7 linked regions of the Homo sapiens genome follow. The protein of the gene in region 4 purifies or fractionates together with the protein of the main gene of each other region. This does not show direct contact. Each region holds a gene or a part of one and is shown on either strand. Other genes may lie near its edges.

The links.
Region 1: the proteins of MMP2 (region 4) and ANXA2 purify together in Homo sapiens (co-immunoprecipitation; one large-scale study listed by IntAct). This does not show direct contact.
Region 2: the proteins of MMP2 (region 4) and SUPV3L1 fractionate together in Homo sapiens (co-fractionation; one large-scale study listed by BioGRID). This does not show direct contact.
Region 3: the proteins of MMP2 (region 4) and KLHL15 purify together in Homo sapiens (affinity purification with mass spectrometry; 2 studies listed by BioGRID and IntAct, with this or other methods). This does not show direct contact.
Region 5: the proteins of MMP2 (region 4) and COL6A1 purify together in Homo sapiens (co-immunoprecipitation; 3 studies listed by BioGRID and IntAct, with this or other methods). This does not show direct contact.
Region 6: the proteins of MMP2 (region 4) and ITGAV purify together in Homo sapiens (affinity purification with western blotting; 2 studies listed by BioGRID). This does not show direct contact.
Region 7: the proteins of MMP2 (region 4) and SPNS1 fractionate together in Homo sapiens (co-fractionation; one large-scale study listed by BioGRID). This does not show direct contact.

The regions. Positions count from the first base shown.
Region 1 is NC_000015.10:60,363,150-60,367,145, forward strand, and holds part of ANXA2 (annexin A2), read right to left. Parts: intron 1,375-3,996; coding exon 1,280-1,374; intron 1-1,279. UniProt on the Homo sapiens protein: Calcium-regulated membrane-binding protein whose affinity for calcium is greatly enhanced by anionic phospholipids. It binds two calcium ions with high affinity. May be involved in heat-stress response.
Region 2 is NC_000010.11:69,186,403-69,190,398, reverse strand, and holds part of SUPV3L1 (ATP-dependent RNA helicase SUPV3L1, mitochondrial), read right to left. Parts: intron 3,957-3,996; coding exon 3,849-3,956; intron 3,006-3,848; coding exon of another isoform or gene 2,933-3,005; intron 2,758-2,932; coding exon 2,643-2,757; intron 1,133-2,642; coding exon 964-1,132; intron 1-963. UniProt on the Homo sapiens protein: Major helicase player in mitochondrial RNA metabolism. Component of the mitochondrial degradosome (mtEXO) complex, that degrades 3' overhang double-stranded RNA with a 3'-to-5' directionality in an ATP-dependent manner.
Region 3 is NC_000023.11:24,016,846-24,020,841, forward strand, and holds part of KLHL15 (kelch-like protein 15), read right to left. Parts: intron 1-3,996. UniProt on the Homo sapiens protein: Substrate-specific adapter for CUL3 E3 ubiquitin-protein ligase complex.
Region 4 is NC_000016.10:55,485,446-55,489,441, forward strand, and holds part of MMP2 (72 kDa type IV collagenase isoform 1 preproprotein), read left to right. Parts: intron 1-158; coding exon 159-332; intron 333-3,097; coding exon 3,098-3,271; intron 3,272-3,996.
Region 5 is NC_000021.9:45,984,659-45,988,654, forward strand, and holds part of COL6A1 (collagen alpha-1(VI) chain precursor), read left to right. Parts: intron 1-1,867; coding exon 1,868-2,027; intron 2,028-2,285; coding exon 2,286-2,414; intron 2,415-2,496; coding exon 2,497-2,517; intron 2,518-2,840; coding exon 2,841-2,861; intron 2,862-2,951; coding exon 2,952-2,996; intron 2,997-3,996. UniProt on the Homo sapiens protein: Collagen VI acts as a cell-binding protein.
Region 6 is NC_000002.12:186,634,864-186,638,859, reverse strand, and holds part of ITGAV (integrin alpha-V isoform 1 preproprotein), read right to left. Parts: intron 2,779-3,996; coding exon 2,653-2,778; intron 1,796-2,652; coding exon 1,751-1,795; intron 584-1,750; coding exon 540-583; intron 452-539; coding exon 395-451; intron 1-394.
Region 7 is NC_000016.10:28,977,282-28,981,277, reverse strand, and holds part of SPNS1 (protein spinster homolog 1), read right to left. Parts: intron 3,371-3,996; coding exon 3,234-3,370; intron 2,124-3,233; coding exon 1,972-2,123; intron 1,874-1,971; coding exon 1,807-1,873; intron 1-1,806. UniProt on the Homo sapiens protein: Plays a critical role in the phospholipid salvage pathway from lysosomes to the cytosol.

The sequences.
Region 1 (3,996 bases), on a different chromosome or scaffold from region 4:
TCCAGAGATGAGCCTTCTGCTCCACTGGGAACTTGGCTCTACCAGCTCACAGACCCCTTTGGGAAGCTGCAGAAATAAAACACTCCCCTCTATGCCTCACTACACAAGATTAATACACTTCTAGTGAAAGAAGAATTTTAATGCACTTGAGATGAAAGAAGCCAGATGCTTTCCTATTTATGTCCTTTCCAACCATTTAGAGTGCGGGGGATGGAAGTGTAGCAAGGCTTGACCTGCAACTCCCAGGACCCTGCTGGTCATGTCAATCCCAAGGGCAGAAATATCTCTTCTAGAATCCTTCCAGCTCACCTCCACTGTGGCTACAAGTGAAAGCCATAAGTCAAACGGGAGCTGCAGGAAGCCACACTTACTGCACTGTCCAAGAATAAATCAAAAGCTTTTAATAGCAAGAAGTTAAAAATAAAGCAGCACGTCCTTAAAAATAAAATTTCCTACAACTGACAAAATAAAGGACGAACACGCACTGGTTGTTTCTTAACCACTAGTGGACAAGCAAAGGGAAAAAGCACACAAAGACCCTTTAAATAGTAGGAGCATGGCATGTTGAAGATAGCTTTGCAGACCAAATGAACTAACAACTAAGCCCACTCGTTGCAAAAAGCTTAAGAATTCAAGTGTATATTTTTAAAATGAGAGGAGCTTGTTAGGATCAACACTCAGTGGAGGCTAGTATCCTAAAATTAAATTAGAAACATCTTATCAAGAACCAGCAGAAGTCATAAAGATGAAATGAGTTGCTACATGTACAAAACTGAGCACAGTGCCTGGCCCAAAGTAAGCACTCAATAAATGGTGCCTGTTGTTGTTATTGTTGTTGTTCCCTATTCCTAACTTTCTATTCCCAGAAGCTCTCCCTCCAGGTAGCCTGGGTTGGGGGAGGGTACTGTCCTTACACAGGAGCTCCCAAGCACTCTAAAGCGAGCGTGACCATCTGCGCTCTGCCTCCTCTCAGATCAACGGTGGCATGAGATTCTCACAGAAGCGCGAACCCTACTGTGAACTGCACACGCGAGGGATCTATGTTGTACACTCCTTATGAGAACCTAATGCCTGATGACCTGAGGTGCACGCGCGCGTGCACACACGCACACACACATGTGCAGTGACTCTTACAAGGATTTAAGAAGAAAATCTTAGATATCCAAGGGTCCCACAAGTCTTTTGCGCATGAGAGCCACAATTCATGAAAAGAAAAAGCAATGTCTGAGGAAACAAAAATTCAACAAGAAATGCCCTCCATCCCTGGAATTGCCTGTACCTTTTTGGTCCTTCTCTGGTAGGCGAAGGCAATATCCTGTCTCTGTGCATTGCTGCGGTTGGTCAAAATGTTGACAATGGTGACCTCATCCACACCTATGGAAATACAAGTTGTTAATCGTTACTCAGTATACTCTAGTATTTTGGGCTTACATAGAAGGTGTCAAGCAGACTTTTTCAAACTGAAATTTATATACTGTTTTCCAAACTGAAATACCCAGACACCAAGATTTGTTCTATCTCTTTCGTCAGCATCCTCTACCCAATGTGTACACTCTCTTTCCTTTTTTCTTGAGAGCCTCAAACCTCAAGCTTAAATGGACCTTTTAAATACTTGTGGTTTAAAAACTATTTTATTCATAAATTGGTTTCTGGAATCAACAGTAGGAGGTGCATATGTGGGGCTTTGGCAGTCAGATGGAACAACAGAGATTTAGTAGGATTTTAAATGAAGGTCCCCAAATTGCCATTTAACTCGGGATTTAATAGAGAGTAACTGCAAACTGAATTAATAGAGATAATTATTTATACTTATTGCAGGATTATGGCTATATAAGCAGCTAGGTATAATTTCTATAATTATAAAAACTGTCATGACAAATGAGTCAGATTTAACACGGCAGTTGTATTTTTAATAGCATAATTGATTAACACAATCACACTTATTGAAGACAAAATTGTTTTGTAAGGAAAATAAACGTTCCACTGCCTTTAATCTTCAATAGGCAATTTTAATAATTAATTTTATAACTTTATTAAAAAGAGTAAGTGTTTTAATCTAAATTAAATCTAAATTGGGAGTTTTGAGGTGCCACCAAAATATTTTAGTACCTATTTTAATTGGAACATGTGTATTTACAAAGATAAGCAATGCCTTCTGGTGTCTGCAAGTTTCCAATTTCATATCAGAAATACTCCTAACATGCCATTTAACTTAAGAAAGCACAGTTTGTAAATTCAGAATGTGAAAAGTCTCTCTCCTGACTGATTAATAACTTTGTTTAATGAAAGAAACAGTCTTTGCCATAACTGGATAGGTAACTCTTGGGTGAGAGAGTAGAGTTGCTAAACCTACAAAGTCACTTGCAAACTACAAATGGCTTGGCCTGAAGAAAATCAGAGGAGTCCTGAAGAAACAGAAAGGTCAAAACTGTAACGCTTGAGACAAAGACAAACAGCAGATTGACAGAGGAAGTATTTTGAATTCTCAAGTGTGTTAGATCAAAAAGTATAAAGTTAGAATTTCTGGGTATAAAAATAAATAACTTTTTAAAATGTATATGCTCATTTCAAAGCAAGTCCATACCAATATGCTTGCTATCTTAACTGTAGCATCTATAACTTTAGCTCTCATTTTTAGAGTAGCCAAGGTAAACATAGAAATCCAATTGCTGCTGAGTCTCCCTCTCCCTCTCCCTCTCCCCCTCCCCCTCCCCCTCCCTCTCCCTCCACGGTCTCCCTCTGATGCCGAGCCAAAGCTGGACGGTACTGCTGCCATCTCGGCTCACTGCAACCTCCCTGCCTGATTCTCCTGCCTCAGCCTGCCGAGTGCCTGCGATTGCAGGCGCGCGCCGCCACGCCTGACTGGTTTTCGTTTTTTTTTGGTGGAGACGGGGTTTCGCTGTGTTGGCCGGGCTGGTCTCCAGCTCCTAACCGCGAGTGATCCGCCAGCCTCGGCCTCCCGAGGTGCTGGGATTGCAGATGGAGTCTCGTTCACTCAGTGCTCAATGGTGCCCAGGCTGGAGTGCAGTGGCGTGATCTCGGCTCGCTACAACCACCTCCCAGCCGCCTGCCTTGGCCTCCCAAAGAGCCCAGATTGCAGCCTCTGCCCGGCCGCCACCCCGTCTGGGAAGTGAGGAGCGTCTCTGCCTGGCCGCCCATCGTCTGGGATATGAGGAGCCCCTCTGCCTGGCTGCCCAGTCTGGAAAGTGAGGAGCGCCTCTTCCCCGCCGCCATCCCATCTAGGAAGTGAGGAGCATCTCTGCGCGGCCGCCCATCGTCTGAGATGTGGGGAGCACCTCTGCCCCACCGCCCTGTCTGGGATGTGAGGAGCGCCTCTGCCCGGCCGCGACCCTGTCTGGGAGATGAGGAGCGTCTCTGCCCGGCCGCTCCGTCTGAGAAGTGAGGAAACCCTCTGCCTGGCAACCGCCCCGTCTGAGAAGTGAGGAGCCCCTCCGTCCGGCAACCACCCCGTCTGGGAAGTGAGGAGCGTCTCCGCCCGGCAGCCACCCCGTCCGGGAGGGAGGTGGGGGGGGTCAGCCCCCCGCCCGGCCAGCCGCCCCGTCCGGGAGGTGAGGGGCTCCTCTGCCCGGCCGCCCCTACTGGGAAGTGAGGAGCCCCTCTGCCCGGCCAGCCGCCCCGTCCGGGAGGGAGGCGGGGGGGGGGGGGGTCGGCCAGCCGCCCCGTCCGGGAGGGAGGTGGGGGGGTCAGCCCCCCGCCCGGCCGGCCGCCCCGTCCGGGAGGTGAGGGGCGCCTCTGCCCGGCCGCCCCTACTGGGAAGTGAGGACCCCTCTGCCCGGCCAGCCGCCCCGTCCGGGAGGGAGGTGGGGGGGTCAGCCCCCCGCCCGGCCAGCCGCCCAGTCCGGGAGGGAGGTGGGGGGTCAGCCCCCCGCCCGGCCAGCCGCCCCGTCCGGGAGGGGGGAGGGGGGATCAGCCCCCCGCCTGGCCAGCCGCCCCATCCGGGAGGGAGGTGGGGGGGTCAGCCCCCCGCCCGGCCAG
Region 2 (3,996 bases), on a different chromosome or scaffold from region 4:
AACTCACATTATAAAGTCATAATAAAACAATGAACCAAAATGTAGCCCATTTAGTGAAAATGATGCCTCAGACTACAGGGCTTCAGTCCTTTCAGTTTTGAAAAGGTAGCTTCAGTCTTTATCATTAGCTCTAGCTGATAGCATCAGAGGTCTAATCTATAAAAGGTAAATTAAATATCATAGAGTAGTGCTTAACTCTGATGGGGCAAAGGACTACAGAGTTTTGAGAGTAGCAACAATATTTTATTTCTTAAAAAAGTAAGTGAAGCAAGTATGATAAAATGTAAAGATATGATGAGGTGGTGTAATAGGTTCAAGCTTATTTGTATGTTACTTTCTGCATTTCTCTACATATGTAAAATGTTCTTCAATATTGTATTTCATTCACTGTACTGGCACATGTTTTCATGTTTTTGTATCTCTGAAATCAAGATGCATCTTAAGAATTGATAGAGCTGGGTGCGGTGGCTCACGCCTGTAATCCCAGCACTTTGGGAGGCCGAGACGGGCAGATCACGAGGTCAGGAGATTGAGACCATCCTGGCTAACATGGTGAAACCCCGTCTCTACTAAAAATACAAAAAATTAGCCAGGCGTGGTGGTGGGCGCCTGTAGTCCCAGCTACTGGGGAGGCTGAGGCAAGAGAATGGCATGAACCCGAGAGGCGGAGCTTGCAGTGAGCCAAGATCGCACCACTGCACTCCAGCCTGGGTGACAAAGCGAGACTCCATCTCAAAAAAAAAAAAAAAAAAGAATTGATAGCATGTCAGAGTCAGTTGGTAGCATCTTTTTCTTTCTTAACTGTATATAAAATAATGGTACATCTTACAATTGACAGCCTCTTAGACACAATGAAATATGGTAATTTCTTGTTAACAGTAAATTACTACAAACATCTTTTCCCACTCCCACCAAAAAAGAAAATTAAGAAAAAAATGAGCAAATATTTGGTAATATACTGACAGCAGCATTACTCTTTTCGAAGATCTCATGTGCCAGTAATTTTAGAGGGCCACAATACACTCCAGACTTTGCTGAGAAGTATTTCTGGATTGCGTGATAAGTCTTTCCACTGTTTGTGGGGCCTGAATGAAATATTATCTTCCGCTGCATGGCTCTAGCATCTGGGTACCTAAAACATGAGTAGGTAAACAGCTTAATCCATTAACCTCAAAATCCATCCTGGCAAAGACAGCAAATGAAACAAATTCCAAATGAAATATCCTCTTAATGTTCACAAGATCAAGTCTTTGAAAAACTAAACAATGGGTTTCATATCCACATTAAAATAATGACTGGTTTCCAAGAATAGCATTTACTAACTAGAGGACAGAAAAACCCAAATGCAAATTAATGTCTTGGAAATTTTTCCCATTGTACAAATCTCTTTTTCTCAGCGGTTACTAAAAATAAATTTAAGCTGCTATCAGTTCCATACTATGTTCACATCATTCCCACAGCTCTAAACACATAACTCTAAAGGCAAACATTCCCAGGCCCCTGAATTCCAACATACACAAATATAATAACAGAGTCTTCTACCTCTGGCCATAGTGGAATAACTGGCACTAGACTTGCCCTCCCACTAAAAACAAGTACAGGCGAGGCATGGTGGCTCACGCCTGTAATCCCAGCACTTTGGGAGGTCAAGGCAGGAGGATCACTTGAGGTCAGGAGCTCGAGACCAGCCTGGCCAACATGGTGAGCCCCCGTATCTATTAAAAATACAAAAATTAACCAGGTGTGGTAGCACACGCCTGTAATCCCAGCTACTCAGGAGGCTGAGGCAGGAGAATCACTTGAACCTGTGAGGTGCAGGTTGCAGTGAGCCGAGAACGCACCACTGCACTCCAGCCTGGGTGACAGAGTGAGACTCTCTCTCAAAAACAAACAAAAAAAATCAAGTACAAAGTGGGGCAAAATACATGCAATAAATGTGTGGGGACATGGGCCACAAGGCAGTGCAGGACTGCAATCCTTGAAAGAAAAGAACACTTGGGATGAGCCGTACTGCACCCCAGCAAGGCATAGGGAGGTGGAACCCAAGCAGAATATGACAGTCCCACTGAAGCGAGCAGCAGAGATTAAGTTCAGAGCTGCTTCAGCAGCTAAAATGTGAAGAATAGACTGTGGAAGAGAAGGGTGCATAGAAGGAGAGCCCAGAAGTCTGTGTGGGGGTTCCCTGCGAATTCCTGGCCAAGGGCTGGGCTAACCATGTACAAGGTAAGAATCGGCAGGGTCTAGGAATGAGCAGCCTACCAAGGGTTTCAGTGGAAAGTCTCAAAGACGTCTCAAGTGCTAGGTGATGTTGCAGTTCCAGCCATGGTGGAAAGAACTCATTAACACCCAGGCGCTCAGCTAAAACACCAGGAAGGCCATAGCTTACACTTAAGGACAACATCCTTAAGTCAGGGCTATTCTAGATCTGCCCTAATAAAACCTAAAACCACACTCAATCCGGATCAAGGTAAGATACCAGTGAATTGCCTAAAAGAGTTAACTGCCTCTTTTTATTTTAGGAAAACAACCTAATCCAGACTCCTTATAATTTGTTATCTAGAATACAATAAAAAAAAATAATGACCACGAATCATCCAAGATTAGAAACTGAAAATTTCAAATCCACAAATGGAGAAACTAACCAGTTAGGTGGTATTCTTAAGTCACTGATTTTACGTAGATCATCCTTACAGTCCAACACAGGAAATATTTGTTTGGCATGTCTCAAGAAAAATGGGAATAAATCATCCGCATGAGCTGGAAAATAAAACACTGTATTAACATGTGCAATCTACATAAAATTCGTAACTAAATTTAGTGAAATCTTTTTTCTTAACAAGCTAAGTTGCGGGGGCACTGCCAGGGTAAAAAGAAAAGTCCTCTCTGGGCACAGTAGCTCACGTCAACAATCCCACCACTTTGGAAAGCTGACCTGGAAGGATGGCTTGAGCCCAGGAGGTTGAGGCTACACACTGAGCTGAGACTGAGCCACTGCACTCCAGAGCCTGGGTGACAGAGTGAGACCGTGTCACAAAAAAAAAAAAAAAAAAAAAAAAAGGAAGAAAAGAAAAAAAAAAGTAGAAAAGTCCTGAGGTTACAGGCCTTATCCTTTTCTGGGATCCTGTTTTGTCTTACTTTTTCCTTTTAATTTATATTTTCAGGAAATTGGCTAGCAACCACCACGTCCTACTCCTTTAGTACAAACAGGCAAAGATTAGCATTGGCAAAAGTTAAATTAAAAATAAAGAACCTAGACATGTACATTACAGAGATGAAGGCGCAAACATTTTTTAAACTTCGAAAACCACAGACAGGCAAAAACATGTGTTTGTTCCTCAGCAAGAATTCTCCACATCTTAGTGGCTCTGAGAGGAGGCTGGGGCATGTCCCATTCTGCGTTGTATCCTCAGTGCTGGGCACAAGGTACAGGTCTAAGAGTCAAATACATAACCAAAGCCAAACTGCCTGTGGGAATGAAACTATGATATTTTGACTTTTTTTTTTTCTTTTATAGCAAGAACTTTGTCCTGATATGAGGGAGAAGGAAGCCAGTGGCAAAAACAGATGGAATCTGCTATGCACTAATTCCAACTTGTGTGAGAGCTTATTTCACTGGGCCCCAGTCTTCCTCCAGTCTAAGACATATGGGTGATGTAATAACCAGCTCAGGGACCCAATATAAAAGCAAACAACCTAGAAGTCATCCTGTGAAAGCACTGAATTATTTACAGAGGATGTTACCAGACCCACTCTAAACCAAATAAGCCCTTCTAGAGAAATGAGCATGAAGTATGAGAAGAAATAGAAGGTATGTTCAATAGGATTTTAAAAAGTCTCTAAACACTTGCCTGCACCGAAGCAAATATCATTCAAAACAATGTGAATGTCCACATCCAGGGAATGAGACTGCATAATATAATTTCTAAAGCTTATGAAAGCTTGGTGGAAGAGACGAGCTGTAGAAACACAAAATGAAAAGATGTAAGGTGTAGTTCT
Region 3 (3,996 bases), on a different chromosome or scaffold from region 4:
GATCTAGTTAACTTTGAAGAAACCCCCCAGCCCACCTTCTGAGTATAGTTTCTCAAGACTCAGGACCCAGGTCAACTCTAACTCCACAGATGAAGACAGTAATAATGTCCACGGGTGAACTGACTTTTTATTCAAGGTCATAGAACTAGTAGCTAGAAATAAAGTTAAGACTAGATTCTAGCCTGCGCAACATATCAAAACCCCGTCTCTACAAAAATTAGCTGGGCGTGGTAGTGTGTGCCTGTAGTCTCAGCTACTTGGGAGACTGAGGCAGGAAGATTGCTTGAGCCCAGGAGGCAGAGGTTGCAGTGAGCTGAGATGGCGCCATTGTACTCCAGCCTGGGCAACAAACTAAGAGCCTGTCTCAAAAAAAAAAAAAAAAAAATTAGATTCTATTTGCAAAAAATACAAAATAGTGTGGTCGGAAAGAGCAAAACCTCTGAAATCAGAGTGCTTACTGTGTGACCTACAGAAATTTTGTTAACTTCCTATCTTGGTTTCCATCCATACATTACTAATAATCATCATCATCTTATTATCAAGTTAGGGTGGTGAATAAATGAATTAACCTAAGTGAGAACCCTCAGTCTCCCCTCTCTACCAACCCCATGCCTCCCTAGGGTTTATCATAATGCAGATTTATAACAGATCAGAGTCAGGCGCAGTGGCTCACGTCTATAATCCCACCACTTTGGGAGGCCGAGATGGGCATATCGCTTGAGCTCGGGAGTTCGAGGCCAGCATGGGCAACGTGGCAAAACCCCATCTCTACTAAAAACATAAAAATTAGTCAGACGTGGTGGTGTGTGACTGTAGTCCCAGCTACTCAGGAGGCTGAGGTCAGAGGATAAACTGAGCCCGGGAGGCCGAGGCTGCAATGAGCTATAATCCACCACTGAACTTCAGCCTGGGCAACAGAGTGAGACCATGTCCCAAAAAAAAAAAAAAAAAAAAAAAAAAATTGTGTACATAATTCTTTAACTGGTTACAGCGGCCTCATGCCTGTAATCCCAACATTTTGGGAGGCAAGGCACGAGGATCACTTGATCCAGTTCAAGACCAGCCTGGGCAATGTGGCCAGACCTCTTCCCTACAAAAAAATTTTTTTAAATAGCAGAGCTTGGTGGCGTGCTCCTGTGGCCCCAGCTACTTGGGAGGCTGAGGCAGGAAAATCGCTTGCGGTGAGGATGTCGAGGCTGCAGTGAACCACGATGAAGCCACTGCATTCCAGTCTGGGCAACAGAACAAGGCCCTGTCTCTAAAAAGAAATCTAAGTACAGAATTATATCAATTTAAGGAAGAAAACTATTATAAGAACTACTTTGCAATGGCAGAGACAGCCGCGGCAGCAGTAGCGTGCTCAACAAGAAGTGCGTAGCCCCACTCTCCCAAAAGAAAAAAACGAATCATTGTAAAACACAAAAACCTTAAATAAGAACTCTTTAAATGAGTGCTGGAGGAAAAATTTAAGAGGCTTTGAGGAAAAACATTTACTGACAAAATGTTCAATGTACAAAAATTCTGTATCCTTACTTTTCATATATAGGTTTATCAACACTTTATACATGGCCTTCAGAATTTCAAATAGTAGGTTTTTTTTTTTTCAAGAGGGAAACCAATTAGACCAAATGACAAGGCATACTTATACTACCAGGAAAGAAATACTGAAGAACGTGTCTTGTTTCATAAACTTGGTACTGACTAAATAAAAGAAAGCCTCACATTTTTGTGCCTAAGAATGATTAGTATAGGGATTCTCAAAGCATGATCTGGGGACAAGTGAATCCAGTTGTCCTAAAAGATCCCAGTCCCCACTAAAGGGGCTTCCCAATGTCAAAATTATTATCCAAATAATTTTTTTAAAGTTATTGGTCAGCCGGGCACAGTGGCTCACATCCGTGATCCTAGCACCTTGGGAGGTAGAGGTGGGCTGATCACTTGAGCTCAGGAGTTCAAAACCAGCCTGGTCAATATGGTGAAACCCTATCTCTACTAAAAAATACAAAACTTAGCCAGGGGTGATGGCATGTGCGTCTGATTCCAGCTACTCAGGAGGGTGAGGCACGAGAATTGCTTGAACCCAGGAGGCAGAGGTTGCAGTGAGCCAAGATTGCGCCACCTCCAGCCAGGGCGACAGAGCAAGACTCCTTCTCAAAATAAATACATAAATAAAGAATAGTTATTTGTCTTTTTCACTTTCATTCTGTTTTCTAGAGGTTTACACATGGTATGTGATATTGCAACAGACTGAATGCAGAAGCTGATGAGAAGCCCATTGGCTTTTATTAAGCCAGATATTAAAGAGATATGCAAAAATTTAAAACAATGCCACTCTTTTCACCAAGTTCTTAACTGTTTTAGAAAAGTTATTTTTCATAAAAAAATGTTATTTAGGTTACCATGTAATAGAATTAATTTTTATTTGTTTATTTATTTTTTGAGACAGTCTCACTCTGCACCCAGGCTGGAGTACAGTGGCATGATCTCTGCAACCTCTGCTCCGGGGTTCAAGCGATTCTCCTGCCTCAGCCTCCTGAGTAGCTGGGATTACAGGAGCCCACCACCACGCCCAGCTCATTTTTTTATTTTTAGTAGAGACGGAGTTTCACCATGTTGCCCAGGCTGGTCTCGAACTCCTGGCCTCAAGCGATCCACCCGCCTCGGCCTCTCAAAGTGCTGGGATTACAGGTGTGAGCCACCAAGCCCGGCCCCCACTAATTTTTAAGAGTACAAATAAGTACAAAGAAGTCCTGAGACCACAGGCTTGAGAACAACTGAAAGTGTAAGAGATAAGTGACAACACACACACACACACACACACGTGCACGCACAAACCTCAACCTCTTCCTACCTCTGCCCTGGAAGACTATTACTGCTATTTATATCACAGAATTTTTGAACACTTCAAACTCTCTAGTGACCAGTAAAAAAAGAAGTTTGGTGGGGGTAAAACTGGACAGGAAATTAAAGGCAAAGAAATTAAATGCTTCCTTTTCAGTTATAAGGCTGCCATTCTGATGTGAAGGCAAAATTATAGGCAATTAAAAGACATTTCAAAATTAACCTCTATGTTTGTGCCATAAGCAATAATTTATTGCTTTCACATTCCTTCCACAGCTGCTTGAAAATTCATACAAAAGCTTAAGGTATTCAATGCAAAAGCTAGATTCTCAGAGGTTGATATAATATACTTACCCTCAATGAAAAATTTAAATGATTTCATACTATCTTCATCCCCAAACTGTTCTCCTACCAAAATTGATGCCTATGCAGAAAATGCCACAGTTGCATATCGAAAAGAGAATGCAAAGGCTTACTACGGATAAAAACAGAATTAATTTCTGAGTCATAACATTTCTCACTTCTGTAACCCATAAAGTAAAAAAATGTAAATTTGACAATCTCAAAGCAGCCAACTTCTCAACATACCAATATAAAAGAAAAGACAAATTTAAAGACAGACTTTTAAGCTCTATTAGCGGTCACTTTACTCTCAATACACTACTCAAATTGAAAACTCACTTTAATATGGGAGGAGACGTTGTGTAAGTTAACTTTAATTTGTTTAATACTGGAAATTCTTTCTTGTCATCAAAATATTTTTATAACTCAGGACCAAATTGCAAATGACCATTTAACTAAGCTATTAGGAGGGCCCTGGGTCCTCCAGCCTCCAGACTGGCACCAAATTACTTCACTTTTCAGGTATGTTTAGCATTTCGTCATCCTATAATACAAGAAGCCTTATAAGAAAAAAAAAACCCTGCTTGAATGCTATTTTTCATCAGAAGACTTTAATTTAATGCTTCTCTGCTTATTCCACACTATGACTAGAAGTAGTCCAAGAGTGATGTCATGGAAAACAGCTTCCCTAGCCTTTAGAGATTGGATCCAGTGAGAATTCTAGGAAAAGCCTCTATTGGGGAATAAAACCCCAAATCTTCTAAGTTCTATTCTAACATGAAATCACAAATACTGTAATGTTAGCCTTTCAGT
Region 4 (3,996 bases):
GCATGCCCCAGACCTTCTCTCCTGTCCTCTCTCCACTCCATTTGCTTGGACCAGAGAGGTGGGAGGGGAGGAAAGTCACACATCTGGGTGAGTCAGAATCTTGGTCTCCAAAGAAGGCCTGGAGAAGTCCAACCTCCCCCTTCCATGTCACTCTTTAGTGGTCCGTGTGAAGTATGGGAACGCCGATGGGGAGTACTGCAAGTTCCCCTTCTTGTTCAATGGCAAGGAGTACAACAGCTGCACTGATACCGGCCGCAGCGATGGCTTCCTCTGGTGCTCCACCACCTACAACTTTGAGAAGGATGGCAAGTACGGCTTCTGTCCCCATGAAGGTGAGCATCCACTCTAGTCCCCAAGACTTTCCACCCCAAGCCTCCAGCTTCCCGGGCTCCCCAGTGTGCTCTTCCCTCCACACTCTCCAGGACTGGCTGCCACTGCCAGTTAATGAGCATCCCTCCAACGTCCTTCACTCAGTTCCCCCCCATCCTGATCTGAGCCATTGCTGTTTCTCTCCCACCAGTACCATGATGAACGTAGTACTCTAATTAAATCAAGTTGATTTTTTTTAAGTTTCACCATTAGCAATCATTTAGGAAGTCACAGATTTGATTTGCTAATTATTTATTTCTAATATATATTGGAGTGAACTTAGAACTATTACAATGCCCAGTGGTTCTCTCTAGAACCAGTCTTTACACTTCAGTCAAGATTGATACTTCAAGGGCATGAGGAAAGGCTTGCTGGTAGCTGGAAACCTAGCAGTGTGATAGGGAGGCAGGACTCAGACCAGGGCTGGACTCAACCTGGTTTGCGTACTCCAACTGAGGAATTTCAGCTATTGCTCCTGCCTTGGTCCTGATGCTGCCTCTGCTAATGCGTGTGTGTGTGTGTGTGTGTGTGCCTGTGTGTGTGTGTGTGTGTGTGTGTGTGTGTGTGTGTGTGTGTCTGGGCACGGGGGCTATACTATCTGCCTCTCTTGGGCACTGTCTTTTTCTGCCTCCTGTCTAGCTTGTGTCTGCATCTCTGTGTCTTGATAAAGACTTTAGGCTTGACTCAGTATTTGTGTTTGTGTGCTTGTCAGTGCCTGAGATGCAACATTTCAGAGATTTTGAAGCCACATGGGGGAAATCTTTTAAAATGGGGTACAGATATTGACATACACACTCAATCCTTTTTAAAAATATCCTTGACACACTTAATAGTCATAAATCACAAAAAGACAATGTAACTTCATACTCTATGAAGTCATCATATTTGATAATTCTGCAGATTGAAAGCCCAGAAAACCTGGCGAAAATGGAAAAAAGTCTAAAAATTTTTAACACTATCTTCTTTCCCATGTCACAAAGACTCTATAGTCTACATAGACTAAAGACTGTCTTTTTGTCTGTAATTTTATGTCTGTGAATCTCCCTAACCCCACTGTAACTGAAAACTAAGCACCAACCATCTTGACAGAATGAAAGAAACAAAGAGCTAGTTAATTCCCTTCCTGTTTATGCTTTTACTACCAGAGCTAAACTTTATATTAAGTAAGAGTTTAAGCCATTCACCATTAATAAGTCAGACATTTTGAAATAAAAATATTTTTTGTATCTTGCGTTTCCCGGTAGGGATTACATGTGGCGTTAACCCTTCCCTGTGTCACCCCTCTGATAGGAACAGAAAGCTTTGGTGATAGTTAGATGTGGAAACAGCTGTATTTCATAAATTTGGGAAGGGTTATTCCCTGCATTGGACATTAGCCATTTACTTTGTGCTTAGCCAGATGCAAGTACGCACAACACGCACGTGTCTGGGTCTCGAGGCAGAGATTGTTGTTACTCAGCCCCTGCTGATGGCTGAGTCAGTGTCTGATTCTTGCCATCCTTGTCAGGGGAATTTGGGAGGAGACAGGGGCTTCCTGGGTGGTAGAAATGAGAGGTCAGAGGCAGGGGGCTGGCATTGGTCGAAGTTAACGCTTTGCCTTTCTCAACTCTGAGGCCACTAAGGTATCTGGACTCAGTCTTGCCTTTTCTCTAGGTGCCATTGTTTCTGGCATTGCAGGACAAGGTCTTTTGGTAGAGAGGGGAGTGGTGAGGATACAGGGCCTCGAGTTCTGTGGTGGGAGGCCAGGGACTGGGCTCCATTCCGGCCATGGTGGAGTTAACGGGGGCTGGTGAGGTCACCTCTGGCGCCGTTGTGCACAGATGGTCCTTGTTATGGACTTGTGGTTTTGCTGGTTGGCAATTCCAGAGACACCATTTTTTAGCTTTGGGTGGATGAGGGGAGGATGGGGAGAATCCAAGACAGACAGGCCAGGCTCTGAACCCCACTCCCTCCCCCAACTCTCCATTTATGGCCCCTGTCTTGAAGATGTCAAAGTAGGAGCCCAGAGTGTTTAGTAAAAGGGACCTGAAGGCACCACCTCCCTCTCCCTCCCTCCTCCTCTTCATTCTTTCTCTCCTTCCTACAGAGACTGCAACAAGGCCATCCAGGAAGGGGCCTGGGGTTGACAGGAGGTAAAGCAAGCTTTCTGTGTATGCGTGTGCACGCACACACACATATATGAGAGTGACAGACTAAGCAAGAGAGATTGAGATTAGTGTGTTTTGTAGTTTTTAGTTACAACCTTCATTCACTTCTTTCATTTCTGTGACCATGAGCAGTTTGAGAACCATCTTTGTCCTAGCCTTGATTTCTCCACCTATCAAATGGAGAGAGATTCTCGTGGTCCTGCCTGCCATGACTGATATATTCATGTCATACATCATTATTACATGAAATTTGCATGGTACAGGTGTGGACCAGGCAGAATGGACAGTGCCCTTGGGGCTGAGGCAGGGTTCTAGAAGCCCTTGCTGTGTGCCAGGTGTCAATCATTTTGTTGTTGGGTGGTCCACAAGGTCCCACGGGAGGGATTGGGATAACCAGGGAAGCAGGGGTTCTCTCTGGGAGCTCAGAGAAGCAGCTCCTTACCAACCAGTAGAGATGTTTTCTTAATATTTTAACAATGCATCAACTTCACTGGTGTGAACCGGCAGGTGGGCAGCCAGCCAGCCCTGTGCCCATGGAAGCATGTCTCATTCACATCCTTCCCTCTCTCCCCCACCCTTAGCCCTGTTCACCATGGGCGGCAACGCTGAAGGACAGCCCTGCAAGTTTCCATTCCGCTTCCAGGGCACATCCTATGACAGCTGCACCACTGAGGGCCGCACGGATGGCTACCGCTGGTGCGGCACCACTGAGGACTACGACCGCGACAAGAAGTATGGCTTCTGCCCTGAGACCGGTGGGTGCCACTCCCTCTCCCTCCCTCAGGGCCCAGCACCTGCTGTCTGACAAAAAAAAAACCCATAAGACTCCGAGTGCCCACCTCCTTTCCCCAAGACAGGGGTGCTAAGACATCTGTGCGAATGACATCCACACCAAGATGTCCGTGTAGCTAGTCAGGATACTTGTCACCTGGTATGGCCTGGGCACTGAAATCAGAACAGACATTGGGCATCAACAGTTGAATTGGTGACACTTAAATGTCAGGCCTGCTCAGGATCCTCTGACCGACCTGCATCCCTTTTCTCTCAGGCTCTCTGGCAGAGACTTCTCTCTCCTCCTCTCTGACCCTGCAATCTCTCTTCCCTGCCTTTCCTGGTCTGTATCTCCACCTTTTAGTCTGTTTTTTATTAAGAGCTCCGTGCTTTCCTCCCTGTCTCCTTCCTGCCCTCCTCTCTATCCCTCCCTCCTTTCCTTCTTCCCTTCCTCCAACAGGAATTTACTGAGCGCCTGCTTTGTGCAGCATACACAGAGGTTGGTCTCTGCAAAGCCCTGCCCAAGGGGGCTCACAGCTGAGGGGCATGTGCTGGTGCCATCAGCTTCATCCAACTCCCTTTGCCCCTAGCCCATCTGCCCCCTTCCATGGGAGGCTCATTAGAACTCTGGAATCTGGCTTCCTGGGTTTGAATTGCAGCTCTGATACTTCCTAGCAGTGTTGGCTTAGGGAAATTTCATCATCTCTCT
Region 5 (3,996 bases), on a different chromosome or scaffold from region 4:
AACAGGGAGAAACAGACACAGAGAGAGACAGAGACAGAGAGAGATAGAGACAGAGACAGAGAGAGACAGAGACAAAGAGTGACAGAGGGACCAAGACAGGCAGACAGAGACAAACAGAGACAGAGACAGAGACACAGAGAGAGACACAGAGAGACAGAGACGGGAACAGAGACAGGCAGACAGAGACAGAGAGAGACAGAGACAGAAACAGAGACAGAGGGACAGAGACAGGCAGAGAGAGACAGAGAGACAGAGACAGAGACAGACAAACAGAGACAGAGAGACAGAAACAGGGACAGAGACAGAAAGAGAGAGAGACAGAGGGAAACAGAGAGAGACAGAGACAGATAGAAAAAGACAGAGGCAGAGAGAAGCAGAGACAGAGAAACAAAGACAGTCAGAGACAGACAGAGACAGAGACAGAAACAGAGACAGAGAGACAGAGACAGAGGGGCAGAGACAGGCAGACAGAGAGACAGAGACAGAGACAGCGAAACAGAGACAGAAACATACAGAGACAGAGAGACAGAGAGAAGCAGAGACAGACAGAGGCAGAGAGACAGAGAGAAGCAGAGACAGGGACAGAGACAGAGACAGAAATAGAGAGATAGAGACAGAGGGACAGAGACAGAGAGATAGAGACAGAGAGGGAGACAGAGAGATAGAAGCAGAGAGAGAGAGACAAAGACAGAGGCAGAGAGACAGAGAGAGAAGCACAGACAGAGACAGACAGAGAGACAGGGACAGACAGAGACAGAGAGACCGGAAACAGAGGCAGAGAGACTGAGAGACTGAGAGAGACGGGGTGGTTTTCCCCACAGCATCAACACCAAGCAGGGCTAGGATCACTGAAACAGACTCATCAGACCCGAAGCATGCGCTTTCTCGGGGTTTTTCTGGACTGAGGGGTTTCCTCTCATCCCAGTGTCCAGCTGTGGGGACGCAGGGGCCGCAAGCCCCGGAGTGTCCAGAGGGGAACGTGGCCTCCCCACACCCAGCCCTTCACGAGGCCTCAGGATCCCAGTGGGGGTACCCGAGGCTGCCCTGTCCAGCCAGGCGGTGCGGGGGGTTTGGGGAGAGCCTCTCCCCGAGGTCGGTCTCAGAGGGCCACATGGCCGGTGTGGGCCGGACATTCCCTTTCCAATGGTTGTGCCCACTTCCCTCCAGAGTTGGTGCCAAGCTGGGACCTGGGGGACTTGGAGTCTCAGGAAGTCGTCCGCTGTCTGCAGGGGGTGCATGGGGGATGTGGCCACACACGTCAGAGTGCGGCCCCCTGTGGAAGCCACAGACAGACACGACTCCCCTAAATGAGCTCGCCCTTCTGGCCGAGATGCTCAGCGTCCCCAGCAGGCTGCCCGACTGCCCTGCGATACTGCCCTCCTTCCTGCTGCTCCCACTTTCCCTTTCGGGGGGTTGGATTTGGGGCATTCAGGGATCGCCCTGTTGTTTGCTCATCACACCCATTTCCTGCAAGAGCCACGGTGACCGAGCAGCCTTGAGTTGAGGCAGCTTGTGGGTAGACGCGGCGGGCATCTCGGAGGGGCACGCTCCCTGCCACCCTCAGCCTCCACTCACTGGTCAGGGGCTTTGCGCCCCAGGGCACCCCAGGAACCGAGCCTCCTTTGGGGTCATGGGTGCCTCTCCTGGGAGGGCGTGGATTTTCCAAAGCAGTTTAGAGAAATGAGACCCACAGGCGTTATTTCCCATGGTGAGGTTCTTTTCAGTAACCCCCACCGTATAGCCAGGATCAGCAAAGAGAGGCGGCTCCTCCCGGTGAGACAGGGACCAGCACCTCCCGGACAGGCTTGGGTCTCCCTCCAGTTCCCCCACCTAGTCTCGAGGTCTCACGCTGCCCTCTCCTGTCCAGGGGCTCCCACCTGAAGGAGAATAAGTACCTGATTGTGGTGACCGACGGGCACCCCCTGGAGGGCTACAAGGAACCCTGTGGGGGGCTGGAGGATGCTGTGAACGAGGCCAAGCACCTGGGCGTCAAAGTCTTCTCGGTGGCCATCACACCCGACCACCTGGTAGGCACCGGCCCCCCCCGGCAGATGCCCCCAACCACAGGGAGTGGCGGCTGCAAGGCCCCCGGCAGCTGGGACCGTCTTTTGGTCCTCGGGAGGGTGTGGGTTCTCCAGCCGGCCACCCTTGCCCCTGAGAGGCCAGCCCCTCCTGCTGAGGAGCCTGGAGCGCCCCAGCCCAGCCTCCCCTCTGGCCCTGTGGGAAGCGGCCCCGGCCGTCAGGGGTCCCAGCCCTGCTCAGCCCACCCTGAACACTGCCCCCAGGAGCCGCGTCTGAGCATCATCGCCACGGACCACACGTACCGGCGCAACTTCACGGCGGCTGACTGGGGCCAGAGCCGCGACGCAGAGGAGGCCATCAGCCAGACCATCGACACCATCGTGGACATGATCGTGAGGCCCCTGCCCAGGAGACGGGGAGGCCCGCGGCGGCCGCAGGTGGAAAGTAATTCTGCGTTTCCATTTCTCTTTCCAGAAAAATAACGTGGAGCAAGTGGTAAGAGCCCTCCCCACCACCCCCAGCCGTGAGTCTGCACACGTCCACCCACACGTCCACCTGTGTGTTCAGGACGCATGTCCCTATGCATATCCGCCCATGTGCCCGGGACACATGTCCCCTGCGTGTCTGCCCGTGTGCCCGGGATGTGTGTCCCCCTGCGTGTCCACCTGTGTGTCTGCCCATGTGCCTGGGACATGTGTCCGCCTGTGCGTCCATCCGTGTGTCCGTCTGCCCATGTGCCTGGGTCGCATGTCACCCTGTGTCCCAGCCGTATGTCCGTGGCTTTCCCACTGACTCGTCTCCATGCTTTCCCCCCACAGTGCTGCTCCTTCGAATGCCAGGTGAGTGTGCCCCCCGACCCCTGACCCCGCGCCCTGCACCCTGGGAACCTGAGTCTGGGGTCCTGGCTGACCGTCCCCTCTGCCTTGCAGCCTGCAAGAGGACCTCCGGGGCTCCGGGGCGACCCCGGCTTTGAGGTGAGTGGTGACTCCTGCTCCTCCCATGTGTTGTGGGGCCTGGGAGTGGGGGTGGCAGGACCAAAGCCTCCTGGGCACCCAAGTCCACCATGAGGATCCAGAGGGGACGGCGGGGGTCCAGATGGAGGGGACGGCGGGGGTCCAGATGGAGGGGACGGCGGGAGTCCAGATGGAGGGGATGGCGGGGTCCAGATGGAGGGGACGGCGGGGTCCAGATGGAGGGGACGGCGGGGTCCAGATGGAGGGGATGGCGGGGTCCAGATGGAGGGGACGGCGGGGTCCAGATGGAGGGGACGGCGGGGTCCAGATGGAGGGGACGTCGGGGCTCCAGATGGAGGGGACGGCGGGAGTCCAGATGGAGGGGACGGCGGGGTCCAGATGGAGGGGACGGCGGGGTCCAGATGGAGGGGACGGCGGGGTCCAGATGGAGGGGACGTCGGGGCTCCAGATGGAGGGGACGGCGGGAGTCCAGATGGAGGGGACGGCGTGGTCCAGATGGAGGGGACGGCGGGGTCCAGATGGAGGGGACGTCGGGGCTCCAGATGGAGGGGACGGCGGGGGTCCAGATGGAGGGGACGGCGGGGTCCAGATGGAGGGGACGGCGGGGTCCAGATGGAGGGGACGGCGGGGTCCAGATGGAGGGGACGGCGGGGTCCAGATGGAGGGGACGGCGGGGTCCAGATGGAGGGGACGGCGGGAGTCCAGATGGAGGGGACGGCGTGGTCCAGATGGAGGGGACGGCGGGGTCCAGATGGAGGGGACGTCGGGGCTCCAGATGGAGGGGACGGCGGGGTCCAGATGGAGGGGATGTCGGGGTCCAGATGGAAGGGACGGCGGGGTCCAGCAGGCAGGCTCCGGCCGTGCAGGGTGTGGACTGTCCCGGGGGCGCTGGGGGCTTCTGAGGGTGTCTCTGTCCGCCCTGCCCTCAGCCGCACTCTGTTCAGAAGGACCTTTCTGGAGGTAGGAGGGTGAGAATGTGGGTCCCCTGCTTCTGTGTGGC
Region 6 (3,996 bases), on a different chromosome or scaffold from region 4:
TTAAAACAAAGATGAAATATTTAAAGCCCATCTTATATCTAGAATATTGAATATTATGGAATCATTAAACCATTCTGATACTGCCAAGGAAAGTTTTAAGAAATTAGAAACTCTGATGATAAAATATTGAGTGAAAAAGGCAAGACAAAATGAAAAATACAGAGTAAACCAATTTTTGTTTATATACTACACACACACACACACACACACACACACACACACACACACGCTCAAAAGAGAAATGATAATAGTTTGACCAAAATGGTAAGAGTTGGAAGAATTATCTATTTGATGAGATTATAGTTCATTTTTACAGTTTTATTTCGCAAATTTTCTCCAATGAGTACATACTGCTTTTATAGTGGGAGAGGACGATCATATTTTGGAAGCATACCTGCTCGCCAGTAAAATTGTATAAGGAGGACATGTTCTTCCCATCATAAATATAAACCTGTGAAGGAAAAATAGAAGTATGTGAAATCTGGTAAAATAGAAGATAACTTAGAGATTTTTTAAAAAATACCTTTTAACTGTCCTACCATTCCCAAAGTCCTTGCTGCTCTTGGAACTCCTGAAACAAAGTCTGAAACAAACAAACAAACAAATTATTCATTTTTTAGGACAACACTGGAAGTTGCAGACCAGAAGTGACTATGTCAGCAAGCTTTAAGTTTTACTACTTCAGTTCAAAACAAACAATCAATTTAGAAAAATTGGTACTCCGTAATAAATAGCCCAGCATTTTTAAACTATAAAATCAAAATTTACAAAATACAAATTCTGGAGGGCTCTCAAACATATGCAAATAAGCCCTCAAGTCATTTGTAATATTGTTAAACAAGAATAGACAAGATAAAGTAACCTAAGAATGAAGAAAAACTACATTTAGTTTAGTAGTACAGTAATGAAAAATAATACAGAGCAAACTGAAGTGGGGTAGAAGTGGCTGTGGCACAAAAATGTGATCAAAATCAGGTAAAGACTGTGATTCCTAAACGGAGCTCTGAAGGAAGATGGATGGACAATGAGAGGATGGGGTAATAACCGTACAGAGATGGCCCAGAAGGTAACAAAGGATGCCTAAAGAAAGAAGACACTAATTCTTCCTCCCAGAGGAATGAATTTGCTGAAGACAAGGAGGAAAATGCTAAGGAAATCACTAACAGTGTTGGGGGCTAAAAAGAAGCAGAAAGGAAAGGCACTGAAGCCAAGTGTAGCTGTCTCAATTTCAGCAGCCACTAGAGGAAGTTCAGCACAGACCTAGCCTGGACTCTCACCAGTGTGCTAACATCTTCCTCATTTCTTCTGTTATATTCCATAACAATGGTTTAAAATTGCTTAAAATTTTATTTTCTTTTCCTTTTTTTTTTTTTTTTTTGAGACAGGGTCTCGGCTCTGTCGCCCGGGCGGGAGTGCAGTGGCGCAATCACAACTCACAGCAGCCTCAACCTCCCTGGGCTCTGGAGATCCTCCCACCTCAGCCTCCTGAGAAGCTAGACACTGGTGTGCATCACCGCGCCCGGCTAATTTTTGTGTTTTTTCTAGAGGCAGGGTTTTGCCATGTTGTCCAGACTGTTCTTGAACTCCAGGGCTCAAGGGATCCACCCGCCTCAGCCTCCCAAAGTGCTGAGATTACAGGCTGCAGCCACAGCACCCAGCCACTCAAACTGCTTAAAATTTTCAATGCCACATGTTTCAAATACTTAATCTAATTTTTTTAAAGATTAGATATAGTTCAAGTACTTCATACCATCTATGCCATCACCATTGAAATCTCCGACAGCCACAGAATAACCTAAACAGGAAACCAAAGGGGAGAACCATCAGGACAAGGACGTTATCTTCAGCAGGCTTGCTGAGTAAGCATTCCTTGAAAATATTTTCAAGAAACTCCTTTACTTATGCAATATTTTGTCCCCTAGTCATAACAGATTCATATATATATGACATATGAATTTTAAATGAAACTGAGTTAAATACTCAAATAGTCTATTTTTATTACAAAACTACAATTGTCTTATTAACTTTACAAAGGAGTCTGTTAAAAACACCAAATTTACAACTCATCATAAAGAACAAATAAATTCTCTCAATCAGCAAGTACTATTTCTGTCATATATGACTTGTTTTAATATATCATAAAGAAATTGAAAGAGAGAACACATGTTAATAAGTCCTAAAGACCAAAACTTTTATTTAACATCATGAAGAAAACTTCAGGAGTTAGACTGTCTCCATTTGAATCTCTGAACAGCAAGTTACAAGCGAGTGACTTTGGGCAAGTTATTTTGCGTCTCAGTGCCTCAGTGTTTTCACCTACAAAATGAGAATAATACAGTATGCTTGACTTGTGAGGATTAAATGAGTGAATACAAACCAAGTCACCTTGAACAATGCCCAGAACACAGTAAGCATATCTTAAAGGCTAGCTATTATTATTATCACTGCACAAATAATCACTGTCTTCAATTTCAATTACTGAAACGTAACATAACCAAAGTACTCATTAACAATTTGAAATTGTATATTCTGTATGTTTCAAAAAATCCTAATCTATTTCACATAAAATATTTTTCTACTTAAAAGACCATACTCAGATATAAGATATATGTACCACAGTTCCAAAAATGAGTAAATTTTGGTTTTACCTACCCAAATAGCTGTCATCAAAAATAGCTTGTGCAGTCCGAGTTGCTAATTGGTTATTATACTTGATGCTGTAAACATTGGGGTCGTATTTAGATACGATTTCTGCCACTTGATCCGAAATAAGCTGACCTAAAAAAGGGTGTATATATAAAATAAATAACCTTCAAATGGAAACTTTATGATACAGATAATGTATGGTACCTGCATGAAGGAAAACAATATTAGATATTAGTACTTCTAATTATTAGCCGTACATAACTCTCCTTGATCATACTCAATTTGAAAATGGATATTCTTAACTTAAAATTATTTCTGTTTAAGCCAGTACTTAAAAGTAGTCTCTGCTAATAAAAATTTAAGAAAACAGGACTTGTCTTAAATCACTAGAAAGCAATGTTAAATACACGGAATAATAAAATCAAAGGCTATCACCCAACTAATCCATTAAAACATGAAAAATTTACTGAAACAATACTGTTACTTTTATAATCAGAATAATTGGTTCAATTGATATTTTTTAACTAGTAATTTAAACATCTTTAGGAAACAACCTGAATGGATGAGTTCACCTTTGTTCACAACCTTGTTATTAAGCAGACAAGAAATCTAGATGACTACACAAAAATCAGCCTGCCCTCCATGCCAAGAAAGGATAGCTGGTTTATCAAGTGTTGTCTCCACAATATGGACACAGTAATCTCTTATCATTTCTGCTGTTTTAGAAAGAAATGTGTAACAGCTAACATTTTCAGTCCTGTTCCCATCTGTTCAGTCACAGAGACTGGATCTACAGCACAGAAGCACTTTCTCTGTCCAGGTCACTACTTTATCATCTGGGCTTCAGCGGTACCAAGAACATATGAAATTCAATAAACATTTCCTGAATTGAAGAACAGAGGAAAATTCATTATTTCTTCTGAATAAAACATTATTCTTTTCTCCATTCTAACAACGACAATTCTGAGATCTGTGAAAAAATTCATTCTAACGTACTTATCCAGGGTGACATCTGCTGATTTTAATCTTATTAAAACAAAATACTATTTGCCAATTCACTGAGTCTGCTAGCTATATATTACAGACAACTTGTAATAAAATTCTAATAAATATAATATTAATAGTACCTCTCTGTCCTAATTTATTACTGTGTCCTAATTATTACACATTCCTATTTATTATTATTCCTATTTATGCAATACCCATGGCATTAAAAAAAAAGGTCATACATTTTCACAGCTGTATCTCTTAAAAAGACAGAGTTAACAAGTAGTCCTAACTGAGAATCACAAAATTTAGCTTCCTTGACAGTTTTGGTTCCCAGGCATGCTCATCAGATACTTCCTTCCC
Region 7 (3,996 bases), about 27 Mb from region 4:
AGCTTTGTCTCCTCTTTGGTAATTTTCTTTTGGGAAACCAGTACCCCTACTTCTCTCAATCCACTTGGTTTAAATAGGATCCCAGGCTTGGCCAACAAGAGGACTGTTAACCACCCCAGCCTCGGTGACGGATTCCGCAGAGGGCACGTGATGCATGTTCATCTAGTCAGACGCTATCCTGGAAACACGGCCCCAGGGTCCAAGGTGCCAATGTTGCTAAATGGAAAGGTAATCATCTGGAGTTCTCACGTCCTTAAGAATGATGTTAACACAAAGGAAAGTAAAGCTCAGAAGAGAAGGGCAGTGTGGGAGCCCTGGATCCAGCTTTACCTGACTGAAGCTCACCTGGGACTTTCAGGAAGAAAGCCAAGACAGCCCCTTTAGGGGGCTTACGGTTTGTTTGTTTGTTTGTTTGTTTGTTTTCGAGACAGAGTCTCACTCTGTCACCCAGGCTGGAGTGCAGTGGTGCGATCTCGGCTCACTGCAACCTCCGCCTACTGGGTTCACGCCATTCTCCTGCCTCGGCCTCCTGAGTAGCTGGGACTACAGGCACCTGCCACCACGCCCAGCTAATTTTTTTTTGTATTTTTAGTAGAGACGGGATTTCACTGTGTTAGCCAGGGTGGTCTCAATCTCCTGACCTTGTGATCCACCCACCTTGGCCTCCCAAAGTGCTGGAATTACAGGTGTGAGCCACCGCACCCGGCCTCTAGGGGGCTTACAGTTTTACAATGGGCTTCTGTCACCTGCACGCAAGAATTCTGTCTAGCACATGGCTTCCAGGTGAGGGCAGCCAGTCTCCTGCAGGCTCAGCAGAATGAGAGCTGCCCCAAAAAAGGGGTATTTGGAGCCAGGCGCATGGCTCACACCCGTAAGCCCAGCACTTTAGGAGGCCAAGGCAAGAGGATTGCTTGAGGCCAGGAGTTCAAAACCAACCTGGGCAACATACAAAGACCCCATCTCTACAAAAAAAAAAAATTTTGTGTGTGCAATGGCACGATCTCTGCTCACTGCAACCTCTGCCTCCCGGGTTCAAGCGATTCTCCTGCCTCAGCCTCCCGAGTAGCTGAGATTACAGGCATGCGTCACCATGCCTGGCTAATTATGTATTTTTAGTAGAGACAGGGTTTCACCATGTTGGTCAAGCTGGCCTAGAACTCCTGACCTCAGGTGATCCGCCCACCTCAGCCTCCCAAAGTGCTGGGATTATAGGCGTGAGCCATCATGCCTGGCAAAATTTTTTTTTTTTTTTTTTGAGAAGGAGTCTCGCACTGTCGCCCAGGCTAGAGTGCAGTGGCACAATCTCAGCTTGCTGCAACCTCCGCCTCCTGGGTTCAAGTGATTCTCCTACCTCAGCCCCCCGAGTAGCTGGGATTACAGGCATGCACCACCACGCCCAGCTAATTTTTGTATTTTTAGTAGAGACAGGGTTTCACCATGTTGGCCAGGCTGGTCTTGAATTCCTGACCTCAAGTGATCCACCTGCCTCAGCCTCCCAAAATGCTGGGATACAGGTGTTAGCCACCACACCCAGCCTACAAAAAGAAAAAGTTTTTTTAATTAGCCAGGCATGGTGGCGGGCACCTATAGTCCCAGCTACTTGGGAGGCTGAGGTGGGAGGATCACTTGAGCTCAGGCGTTCCAGGCTACAGTGAGCTATGACTGCACCACTGCACTGCAGCCTGGGTGACACAACAAGACCCTGTCTCTTAAAAGAAAAATGGGCGGTGGGAAGGGGTCCAAAGGTAGGAAACAGGGATCAGTGAGAACGTCGCTGACCTACCCCCAGGCCAAGACCAGACTCACCCTCAGAGCCCAGTGCCAGTCTCCAGCCATATCCTTCACTTTGGAGCCTGCAATGTAGCCCAGACCACTGTGGGAGGGAGAGAGGGGAAAAAGGGGGGACAGCCAGTCAGTCCAGTCCCCCACACCAGGCCCTTCTGCCTTCCCCCAGGCCCCAGGCCCACTCACCTGCCCACCGGAATGGCAAAGTAGAAGATGCTGAGCATCCGGCTCCGCTGGTCGGCCACAAAGAGGTCGGCAATGAGAGTGGGCGCGATGGTGGAATAACTGGCCTCCCCGACCCCCACCAGGCCCCGGGTCAGGAGGAGCAGCCAGAAATGCTGGGGAGAGAGACCGGGGAGAGGTGGCACCCCAGCCTGCAACCAGCCTCCGGGCTACCTCACCAGCCCGCTCCCAAGAGGCAGCAGGGATGGCGGGAGATGCCTGGGTTTTAGAATCACACAGACCTGAGCTTGCATCCTGGCTCCACCACTTACTAGCTGCGATTTGGGGAAAATAACTTAACCTCTCTGAGCCTCAGTTTCCTCATCTGCAAAAGGAGGATAACAACAACTTTTCACAGAGCTATTGCAAGGACTAGACAATAAAAGGTCTAAATAAGACAACCCCTGCTTGCCTGGTAGGGGAAAGTTTTTTAATTTTTTTTTTTTAATGAATAAGTGACCTTAGATGGGAGTTTATGTGTCTACCAAAGGCACCTGAAGCTAAGGACGGGTACAGTCACCCAAGGAAAGTACGTAGGTCCTGGGGCTGAGGACAGAGTTCTGGGGTGGAGTGAGAACAGACAGAGGAGGCTTCAAAGGAACAAAGAAGCAACAGCCAGGGAGGCAGGAGGAAAGCCAGAAGAGTGTGGCATCGCAAAGGTAGGAGAGAGTTTCAGGAAGGAAGAGTGGGTCAACAGTGCCAGAGGCTCCTAGCATGAACAGGACCAGGAAGTTGGAGCTGTGTTTAGCAACTAGGAGGCCACTGTTAACTTTGGCAAGAGCAGGGTCCGTGGAGTGGTGGGAGCAGAAGTCAGTGGCAGCGCTCGAGGGGTGAGCAGGCGTGAGGAAGTGCAGGCAGAGTGATGGCATCTCCCCGGCTGCTCTTTTACCCACACTGGCACCACGCTCTAGGGGCCCTTCAGGAAGTCTGATCAGGAATGAGAGGAGGGAGAGAGGGCAGGCCAGGTAGGGTTTGGAGTGTTTAGGTATGGAGTAGAAGGAGTCAGTGGTCAGGGGAAGAGGGGATAATGGACAGAGAATGCTCTGGAAGAAAAGGGGAGGATGGGGTGGGGCAGGTTAACTCAGGCAAGGAGGGGTATAAAATGGCATGGACCAGGGAAACTGCAGGAGTCCCTGAGGCCCAGTCTGCCATAGCTCCAAGGAGCAGCAGCAGAGACTGACAGGGAGGGGGTGTGGGCAGAAACAGGAGCCAGCTTGGGGCCTCACCTCTCCGGGGATGAAGGATGACCCCAGTGTCACCAGGGACCAGAAGGCAATGCCCCCGCACATGAGATACTTCCGATTGTACCTGTCACCCAGGTAGCCAAACACAGGTGCCAACACCATGTAACTGGAGATGAACACTAGGGGGAAGCAGAGAGTCACAGCTCAGCCCAGGTACCCCTACCTCCCACTCCCACCCCAGCTGGAACCACTAAAGCACAGGAGATGCCTGCCTTCTCCTTACAGAATTCACAACACCCCCACATCCCAGCCTGAAGCCCATCAGAGCTTCCTGTCAGGCGGATGGTCCAGCTCCATCTTGAACACCTTTCCAGATTTCCCATTGTATAATGGATGGTCCCACTACTTGTCAATTCCTTCCACCTAGCCAAAACAAGCTCCAAACTCCATGCATACCATGGCTCACAATGCCCCTGTCCAATCTAGGCCCTGCCTACCTCTCCACACTCATGGCCAGCCTTTTTCCCTTCCTCTGTCTGCATCCCAATGGCCCAATTGTCAAGGCCAATACCACTAGGGGTTTAGGCACCTACTGCCTCCTCTATCAAGGACATTCTCTCCTCTCCCCCTGAAACTTCACAGAGCATAGTTCCTTCAGGTTCCAGCTCAGATACTTGCCCAGGGCCAAGGGTGAAGCATGCTGCCCAGGTGAGCACACATCCAGTACCTGACTCTCACATTTACTTTTTTCTCTTTTTTTTTTTTTTTTTTTTTAAACGAAGTCTCGCTCTGTTGTCAGGTTGGA